Linked DNA regions of Homo sapiens: region 1 is linked to region 2. A link means that fine-mapping ties the variant in region 2 to the expression of a gene that starts in the linked region. Tissue or cell type: blood mononuclear cells. Region 2 holds a variant in brackets; the other region holds the start of a gene. All regions are shown on one strand. Distances are between the middles of the regions. Region 1 holds the start of SYK (spleen associated tyrosine kinase). Region 2 overlaps SYK (spleen associated tyrosine kinase).

Region 1 (4,393 bases), 44 kb before region 2:
TTACTGAATGACATCTTGTTTGTGTCCAAGTTTTGGCAATAAACTTAGTAAATAAAGCCAGCGTAAACATTTGTGTGCAGATTTTTGTGTGAACATAAGGTTTGAACTCCTTTGGGTAAATACCAAGAAGCACAATTACTGGGTACTACTTTAGGTAAATACCAACTACTTTGGGTAAATACCAAGAAGGACAATCCTCTTATAATTACTCATGTTGTAAGAGGATGTTTAGTTTCATAAGAAACTGCCAAACTGTCTTCCACAGTGGCTGTACCATCTTGCATTCACAACAGCAATGAATGAGTATTTCTATTGCTTCACATCCTCACTAGTGTTCACTGCGGTCAGTGTTCCGAATTTGGGCCATACTGATATCTTACTGTCTTCATTTGCATTTCCCTGATGATACATAATGTGAACCATCTTTTAGGCTAGGCATGGTGGCTCACGCCTGTAATCCCAGCATTTTGGGAGGCCAAGGCAGGCAGATCACGAGGTCAGGAGATCGAGACCATCCTGGCGAACACGGTGAAACCCCGTCTCTACTAAAAATACAAAAAATTAGCCGGGCATGGTGGCGGGCGCCTATAGTCCCAGCTACTCGGGAGGCTGAGGCAGGAGAATGGCGTGAGCCCAGGAGGCAGAGCTTGCGGTGAGCTGAGATGATCGGGCCACTGTACTCCAGCCTGGGCAACAGAGTGAGGCTCCGTCTCAAAAAAAAAAAAAATTACTACATGATACTAAGTAATGCGGAAGGTGACTCAAAGGGGGAAAGGAACACAGCAGTGTAAAGGAAGGAGGTTGTAGATGGATCTAGAATTTCCCCCTCATTTCCATCAGGTGAAAGCCTGAGAAAACTGCAATCTTTGTGCAGGCTGGGTTTGCTTTGTACACACTGGTCCCCTAGTGTTCATCTCCAATAATGCTGACAACTCTGAAAACCATCTGTAGACATTCTGCAGGCTCCATCTCAGGAACAATGGCTATTTTTTCGGGTAGTTGAAGCAAAATTAAGTCCAATGATAAGCAAATATAACCATTATCAAAATCTTCCATTTATGTTTGTTAAAGCAACCTAAGTATGATCTGAGAAGGACTCTGTATTCTATATTTGAGTCCTTGTGGATGAACTGTAACCTAGCTTAATAGGCAGACAAGATTGAAAACCTAATTTAGGAGTATGTGCCTTTAACAATAGCTGAGTCTTGGCCAATCCCAGTGGCCATACTTCAACCATTCATACACTGCTGAGTGTTCAAACTGTGTTCAAAGAAGGCAAAAGCCAACCTGTAACCAATCCAGTTGTTTCTCTGCCTTACCTCCAATTTCTGTATGTCACTTCCCTTTTTTTGTCTATAAATATGTTCTGACCATGAGGCATCCCTGGAGTCTCTGAATCCGCTGTGATTCTGGAAGCTGCCCCATTCGCAAATCATTCATTACTCAATTAAACTGCTTTAAATTTAATTCTGCTGAAGTTTTCTTTTAACAGGTTTAGAAAAAATAATGGCAAAAATGAATGAAAATCCAATAACCCTGGAAGCAGAAAAGGCTGGGGGCTCCAATAAGTGTAAATAGTCCCATCCCTATATTTTCTCCATGGCAATTACAATCCAGCACATTATATATATATTTTTTTGCTTCTCGCATTTTGGCTTAGGGTAAAGCTTTTTAAAACAGGCACTGCCAACCAGTGTTATCAAGAAGGTCTGGATGCCGTTTTGTGGGAACATTTTAAAGAGGAATGTCCAAAAGGAAAAGGGGGATGGGTTGGGAGAAGGGTATCAGGCGGGTATCTCAAAACCATTCTTAGGGCTATAGGTTTAATTTATTTGGTTGTGGACGTCAGAGCCGTCATGGTAAGAAGGAAGCAAAGCCTTTTGTAATAATTAAAGCCTTCAGAAGCAGCGTGCCCCATTGCCCACTAGTGCGCCGTGAAGTCTGGTGTTCACCTACAGGGTCCCTCTCAGCACTGCCCAGGCCTCCCGAGTGCTCCAGCACAGTAGCTTGGAGCTTGTTGGTTTGGTGACCAAGATACACTCCAGGGAATATGCCATGCAGTGGAGTCTCTTCCCCGGCACTGCATAGCAAAAGGAAAGGGCCGCTGGGTGTCTGTGGGTCCTGGGCAGTCACAGAAGCCACCGCGCTGGCGGGGAGGAGGGGGACCGATGCGGTCCATGTCCCGGGCAGCCCCACCTTCTCTGCCTGCGAAGGGCCCTTGTCCGGCGGGAGGAGAGAGGCGCGCCCCACCCGGGCTCCTCTACACCTGCCGCCGCCTGGGCCGATTCCGCGGGCCTCGCCCGGCGCTTCAGCCGATTCCCGCCCAGCTCCGGGCTCATGGGCGCGGTCAGCAGGGCGGGCCAGGGCGGCGGGGCGCGACACTGGGAGGAAGTGCGGGCCGCCTGCCCGGGCGCGTTAAGGAAGTTGCCCAAAATGAGGAAGAGCCGCGGGCCCGGCGGCTGAGGCCACCCCGGCGGCGGCTGGAGAGCGAGGAGGAGCGGGTGGCCCCGCGCTGCGCCCGCCCTCGCCTCACCTGGCGCAGGTAGGTGTGGCCGCGTCCCCTACCCGGCCGGGACTTTCTGGTAAGGAGAGGAGGTTACGGGGAACGACGCGCTGCTTTCATGCCCTTTCTTGTTCTACCTTCATCGGCCGAGGTAAAAGTGCTGAAACCATGTGAATAAAATACAGGTGGGTTCCGCCAGCTTCGCTCCTGAACCTACCCGCGCTCGGGATCCAGAAGCTGCGCCGGGAGAGAGGGGCTCAGGCCTGGGCGGAGGGGACGGAGGTCAGACCGTGCGGAAAGTGACCCGGGCACCCCAGGGCGCCCAGGCCCCCAGGGAGCGCGGAAAGTGCGGTCGCGGCCCGGCCCTCGGGAGACGCGGGATTGGGATCAGGCACAGCGCGAGGAAGTCGATCTTGGAGCTAGAACATTTTCCTTTGGCCATTTACACGAATCCACTGGAAAATGCCGCAGTGTTTATCAAAGTTACTCAAAGTAGAAATGTCCAGACGTCTTATGAGCTTAGACAAATCTTTTACTACAAAAAGAAACAGCAGTTGCATTCAAACAACAACCCTTCTGAACCACTACTAAAATTTAGCATAATTACTCTTGTGGATACATTTTCATTGTCAAGTAATTTACTTAGCCAATGAACTTGGAGAGCAAGAAAGTTTTATGTAGTAAAATGTAAATTTGAGTTAAGAGTTAAGGGTGTTTCTTTTTGTCTGTTTGTCTGTTTTTGGCAATGTGGCTCCAAAACCTTAAGCCCACCTAAAAACTATATAAATGCAATCCATTCTTTTGTTGGAATGTTCAAGGACTAGAAAGACAATTGGAGAAGTGAGAGTTTGAATCTTTTTTTACGTTGGAAACAGTGTTGCAAAATATTTTTTGAGTTTTGCCTGACTTAGCAAAGATTCAGTCGAACTCAAGTAGAGTTCAAAGCATTGCAGCGTGTAGTAAAAAAAAAAAAGAGTTGAAGATGTTGTGCCATATCTGATTCTTGGTATTAAAAATAAAAAAAGGAACCATTTAATCCCTAAGAGTTCCTGGAAGAAATGGAATTGATTCTACCATCTGACTTCTTTGTCTTAGTAGGGACAAATTCATTGCCTTCACACAGGCAGCATTTTAATTAAATGCAACTAAATACATTGATGTCCTCCTTCTCCCCAGTGAAAGTCCGAGCAGTGCATAGATAGAATTATATTTTCTCAAAAAGGCTTAAATACATGTAAATTATTAAGTGTTTTAAGTGAGAAATCTTTGTCAGTTGAAATTATTTTATCAAATCATTTTTGTTCTGAACGGCACTTTTGTTTTAACGTATTTAGAAAACTCTTGCATTAAAACAGAAATTGATTTGTATTATCCCCTGTATTTGAAGTGCACTTTAAAGTGTATTTGAATGAGAGATTATAATCAAATTACTTGATTTGTGTCTTATCCTCTTACTCTTCTACCTTGGATTTGAAAAGGTTGGATTTGAACACTAGGAAAAAAGAGATTTTTCTACTGAGGGATTGTGGGAAGATTTTTTTTTAAGCCTCTGTATTTGAAGTGAAATATAAAATAGGATTTTATAATAGTCTTAATAACTAGAAAGTTTTAAGCTAGGATAAAAATGGGGTGTATACTTTAGGTCTTTATCTTTCCTGAGAGATGAAATTGGTAGAAACGTTATTTTATTGCTAGATTTCACTTTAGAAATGAATCACCCTGATCTTTGTTAGGCCCCTATTTAATATTCTAAATGCAGGTCTAATCTCTCTGCTTTTTTTTAATGGAAGACTTCTTAGTAGAACTTCACTTATTTAGCACATTGTTTGCCCATGGTTATAATCCAATATGCTTGTGCCAAGACGTATTTTGGAATTCAAGCTTTTTCAG
Region 2 (4,393 bases):
CCACGTGGGGTCCTCACCAAAGTTCTCTGTCTCTGTCTTGCCCAGGTGGACACCTGCGCAGGTGTGTGCCCTCCGGCCCCTGAAGCATGGCCAGCAGCGGCATGGCTGACAGCGCCAACCACCTGCCCTTCTTTTTCGGCAACATCACCCGGGAGGAGGCAGAAGATTACCTGGTCCAGGGGGGCATGAGTGATGGGCTTTATTTGCTGCGCCAGAGCCGCAACTACCTGGGTGGCTTCGCCCTGTCCGTGGCCCACGGGAGGAAGGCACACCACTACACCATCGAGCGGGAGCTGAATGGCACCTACGCCATCGCCGGTGGCAGGACCCATGCCAGCCCCGCCGACCTCTGCCACTACCACTCCCAGGAGTCTGATGGCCTGGTCTGCCTCCTCAAGAAGCCCTTCAACCGGCCCCAAGGGGTGCAGCCCAAGACTGGGCCCTTTGAGGATTTGAAGGAAAACCTCATCAGGGAATATGTGAAGCAGACATGGAACCTGCAGGTGGGCCACAGCTGGTCCTGCTCCCTGGGCCCAGGGGGCCCTGTGACCCCACACAGACTTCCTGGCTACATGCAACACATGTGCCTATGTGCCCTGTGTGCCCAAATAACACAACCATCTCCTTAAGCATCAATTTTGGCCAAAAAATGCCTCTCTCTGATAAGAGCCTTTCCTCTTTCACAGCCACAGCTGAGAGGGTGGGTCCCTTTGTGCCAGCAGTGTGGGTTTCTCCACAGCAGGGAACCACTGTTACCCAGTGCAAGGAGGGCCTTTTCAGAGAGGCATTGATAGGTGTTGATTGGTTTCTGTTTATCTGACAAGGTCCTACCATACACACTGATAGGCACTTGATTTTATGGCTTCCTAATATCTCTTGCAGAACTTTCTGTGTCAACACTCATATAGTTGCATCACCCGTTCTTTGGCTATCTGGTATCACCTGCTATGCACCACAATTTATTTAACTAGTACCTATTGATGGACACATTTGCTGTTTATGAATAAACGCTGCTAACAACATTGCTCTAGACCTATCGTATACTACACTTGTATGCAACGTCTGCAGGATAAACTTTGAAAGGGTTGGGATTGCCACAGCAAAGGATATGTGTGTTTATTTTTTTATTTTTTATTTTTTTGAGACAGAGTCTTGCTCTGTCACCCAGGCTGGAGTGCAGTGGCATGATCTCAGCTCAATGCAACCTCTGGCTCCAAGGTTCAAGCGATTCTACTGCCTCAGCCTCCCAAGTAGCTGGGATTACAGGCATGTGCCACCACACCTGGCTAATTTTTGTATTTTTAGTAGAGATGGGGTTTCACCATGCTGGCCAGGCTGGTCTCGAACTCCTGACCTCAAGTGAACCATCCTCCTTGGCCTCCCAAAATACTGGGATTATAAGCGTGAGCCACCGTGCCCGGCCATGTTATTTTTATTTATACACTTGAAAGTACTTAAGTAATGTGTAAAGGTCTTTCTGGTTTTATTTACTGAATGAATGAGTGAATAAGTTTTGATCCTGTTTTACCATGCCAGGACTCGAGATAGATTGGAAATGCCTTCTGCATCATTTTCATTTTTCCTCGGTATGGTTTACTCTGCTTTGCTCTCCATGTGGCAGGGTCAGGCTCTGGAGCAGGCCATCATCAGTCAGAAGCCTCAGCTGGAGAAGCTGATCGCTACCACAGCCCATGAAAAAATGCCTTGGTTCCATGGAAAAATCTCTCGGGAAGAATCTGAGCAAATTGTCCTGATAGGATCAAAGACAAATGGAAAGTTCCTGTGAGTATCGTGCCTTCCCCCTCACCTCCTGCCACCAGGCCTGTGTGGACAATTGGGAATAATTCAGCTTCCTTGTGACTGGCCCCACATGACCCTGGGAAGAGGCCATGCATTGCCATTTGACAACATGCATGCTGGCCTGTTCTAAAGACATTTCTAACCAAAGCTATCACTTGTGACCCAGTGTTTATTTTGCCCAGTCTAACTCTAAAATGAACACTCTTTTTGGGCACCGAGGGATGTAATATTTAAAGAAAATGTGATTCAGCCCCATATTCTCCTTTTAATGGCAAATTATAGGTTGCATAGCACATTCTGTGGTTATCCAACTAAAATTAAAATACTGCAGTTTTTTTACTCAAACTACCCCCTTGATCTCAGACTTTACTTCTATTTTACATGAAACAAGATGCCAACAGGAAAGATGTTAAGGAAAAGTTCCTGGGAGTAGCATCCATGAGTGGT[G/A]AGTGCAGGTTTGAAGACTTCAGCCTTAGGCCCACAGTCATTAGAGGGTCTGTCTGAATCCTGGGTTCTGTTTGCTATCCTCAGTGGTTCAGTGTAAATCTAAATTGTAGAAGGTTCTGAGATACAGGCCAACGTGGTCAGTCAGTTGTCCAGAGAAGGTAAAGAACTGTCTTTGGGAGGTGTCAACCTTGTTCCCTCGAGGGGGTCTGGTCAAGGTGGCTCAGTGGGGCAGTTGTCCCTGGGGGAAATGATCCCCTGGTCACCTCTCAGTGTCCCTACAGAGATGCTTACCTTGGAAACATAACCAGAAACAGCGATGCAGCCTCATGGTTTGGCAATTGGTGAATCCCCAGCCGACTTCGTAAACTTTTCCTAGATTTAGAAGCGTTTTCTCTGCCTGTCCATCTATTCAAAGGAATTTCCTCAGACTTCACTGTCATACCTTGTATTTTAAAAATGATCTTAGCTGAGTGCAGTGGCACGCACCTGTAGTCCCAGCTACTCCTGGCAGGAGGATCGCTTCATCCTCACTATGATCTCACTATCGTTTGAGGCTAGTTTGAGACCAGCCTGGGCAACATAGTGAGGCCCTGTCTCAAAAAAAGAAAAAAAGAAAAGAAAAATTGACCACAATACTCTTAAAAAAAAAAAAAAAAAAGGAAGAAGGAAGAGTGGCCCAGGTTGCCACGCGGCAGTGCCTAGAGTGATGGTCTTTAGTGGGATGCAGCCCCAGCCAGCAGCAGAATGCTGTGGGGAGGGAAGACATTGCCCCTCAGTGGAGGCACCTATGGCTATTTTTGCTGAGGTTTGGCTTCTTACCATCTCAGCAATAATTTCCAACATGAATGTCATGGGACCATGCACATAGCATCTTGGCATGTGAAGTCAACCCAAAATAGCATAATCCACACGATGAGGCTGGCCAACTTCTGCTGGTTAAGAAGCCTGCTCATAGCCTCTTTGGCCACGAAGCTGTTTCTTTTTTCGGAGTTGTCTATTCCCGAAAACAGCAGTTGCATCCTTCATGGCCATGACTTTTGCTCTCTCCTTCCTTTCTGGGAGATGTATATAAACCCCATGCAGAAGGCTGGGAGGTGCAGCTCTTGTTTGATGAACATGCCTTGTTCCCTATCTGCCCTGTACAGACTGACATCTCATGTGTCCTCACAGCACATGTCCCTGACACTGAGGCTTATGGTTTATGCAAGAGAGTCTCAAACTTGCCGTGCTTCCTATTCAGCTGGTGTCAGAGCTAACCAGGCATGGGCCTGTGAGAGAGGGGCCTGGGCTTCTGTGTTTTCATCGAGCACCCTCTCCTTAGTTGTCTTCTTCTCCTGGGTTCTTATTCCTGGGTTCTTATTCTCCTGGGTTCTTATTCCACTTTATATTGCAGTTGTCCAGTTATCACCCCATAATTGCCAACCTCCCAGATAATAGCTTCCAAGGCTTTCTCCCTTGTGTTGTCCACAGCTCAGTCCCACACCTTCCCGTGCTCCCTCCACACCTGCAGGGCTCACCTGTGGACTGATGGTGCATAGCACCCCATGCCCAGGCCTGGCATCAGGCAGGGTATTAGTGAGAGGGAAGAGCAGAGCTAAGCCTGGGCAGCAAGACCCAGCTTCAGAACCCATGTTCCCATGATGGTTGTAGAACCTTAGACTAAGGGAAACTTTCCCCAGGCTCTGCTCCTCTGGGTCTGTGACTGTCTTGAGGATTCAATGAAAATACACACCACGTACACCGCACAGCACATGTGGTCATCACTGATGTAGCTTTTCTTCTCTCTTCAGTGCTCTTTCTCCATCATGAGCACCAGGAAAGTCTCCTTGTCAGGGTATCTTATGGTGTTTTTAACAGAGAAAGTGTGAGGAAACACCTTGGAGGGGTTTGCCACCTGGCAATTTCACCTCTTGACAACCTTTCATCTCCTACAGAACCTGGCTGGGGTTCTTGGCTGTTGCTGGGTGTGTAAACCTTCCTTGTTGCAGTGTAGTGGGCGTGTTATACTGTGAGTGTTTGAATATGGTTGTGTATGCTTGTGGAGAGCAGGGAGAGTTTGCCAGCATACTGGATACAGTCCAAGTCTACCATGCTTCCAGCACGGGGCAGGGTCTGCATCCCTGAATACAACGTCTCCCAAGTCCAG

Evidence for each region. PIP is the estimated chance that this variant, and not a neighbour inherited with it, causes the effect.
Region 1: it holds the start of SYK, and the variant in region 2 is fine-mapped to the expression of SYK in blood mononuclear cells (TOPMed, PIP 0.97). The same link has a PIP of 0.9 or more in whole blood.

Annotation. Positions count from the first base shown.
Region 1 is chr9:90,799,352-90,803,744 of GRCh38, forward strand. SYK (spleen associated tyrosine kinase) reads left to right here and starts at 2,468. Exons shown (of 14, transcript NM_003177.7): 1 at 2,468-2,542. RefSeq lists silencers at 2,217-2,426, 2,447-2,606.
Region 2 is chr9:90,843,813-90,848,205 of GRCh38, forward strand. SYK (spleen associated tyrosine kinase) reads left to right here. Exons shown (of 14, transcript NM_003177.7): 2 at 46-503; 3 at 1,622-1,782. The coding sequence starts at 87. Among named protein-coding and RNA genes, the nearest start is that of SYK, 44 kb to the left of the region's middle. The variant G/A (reference allele first, on the strand shown) is at 2,248.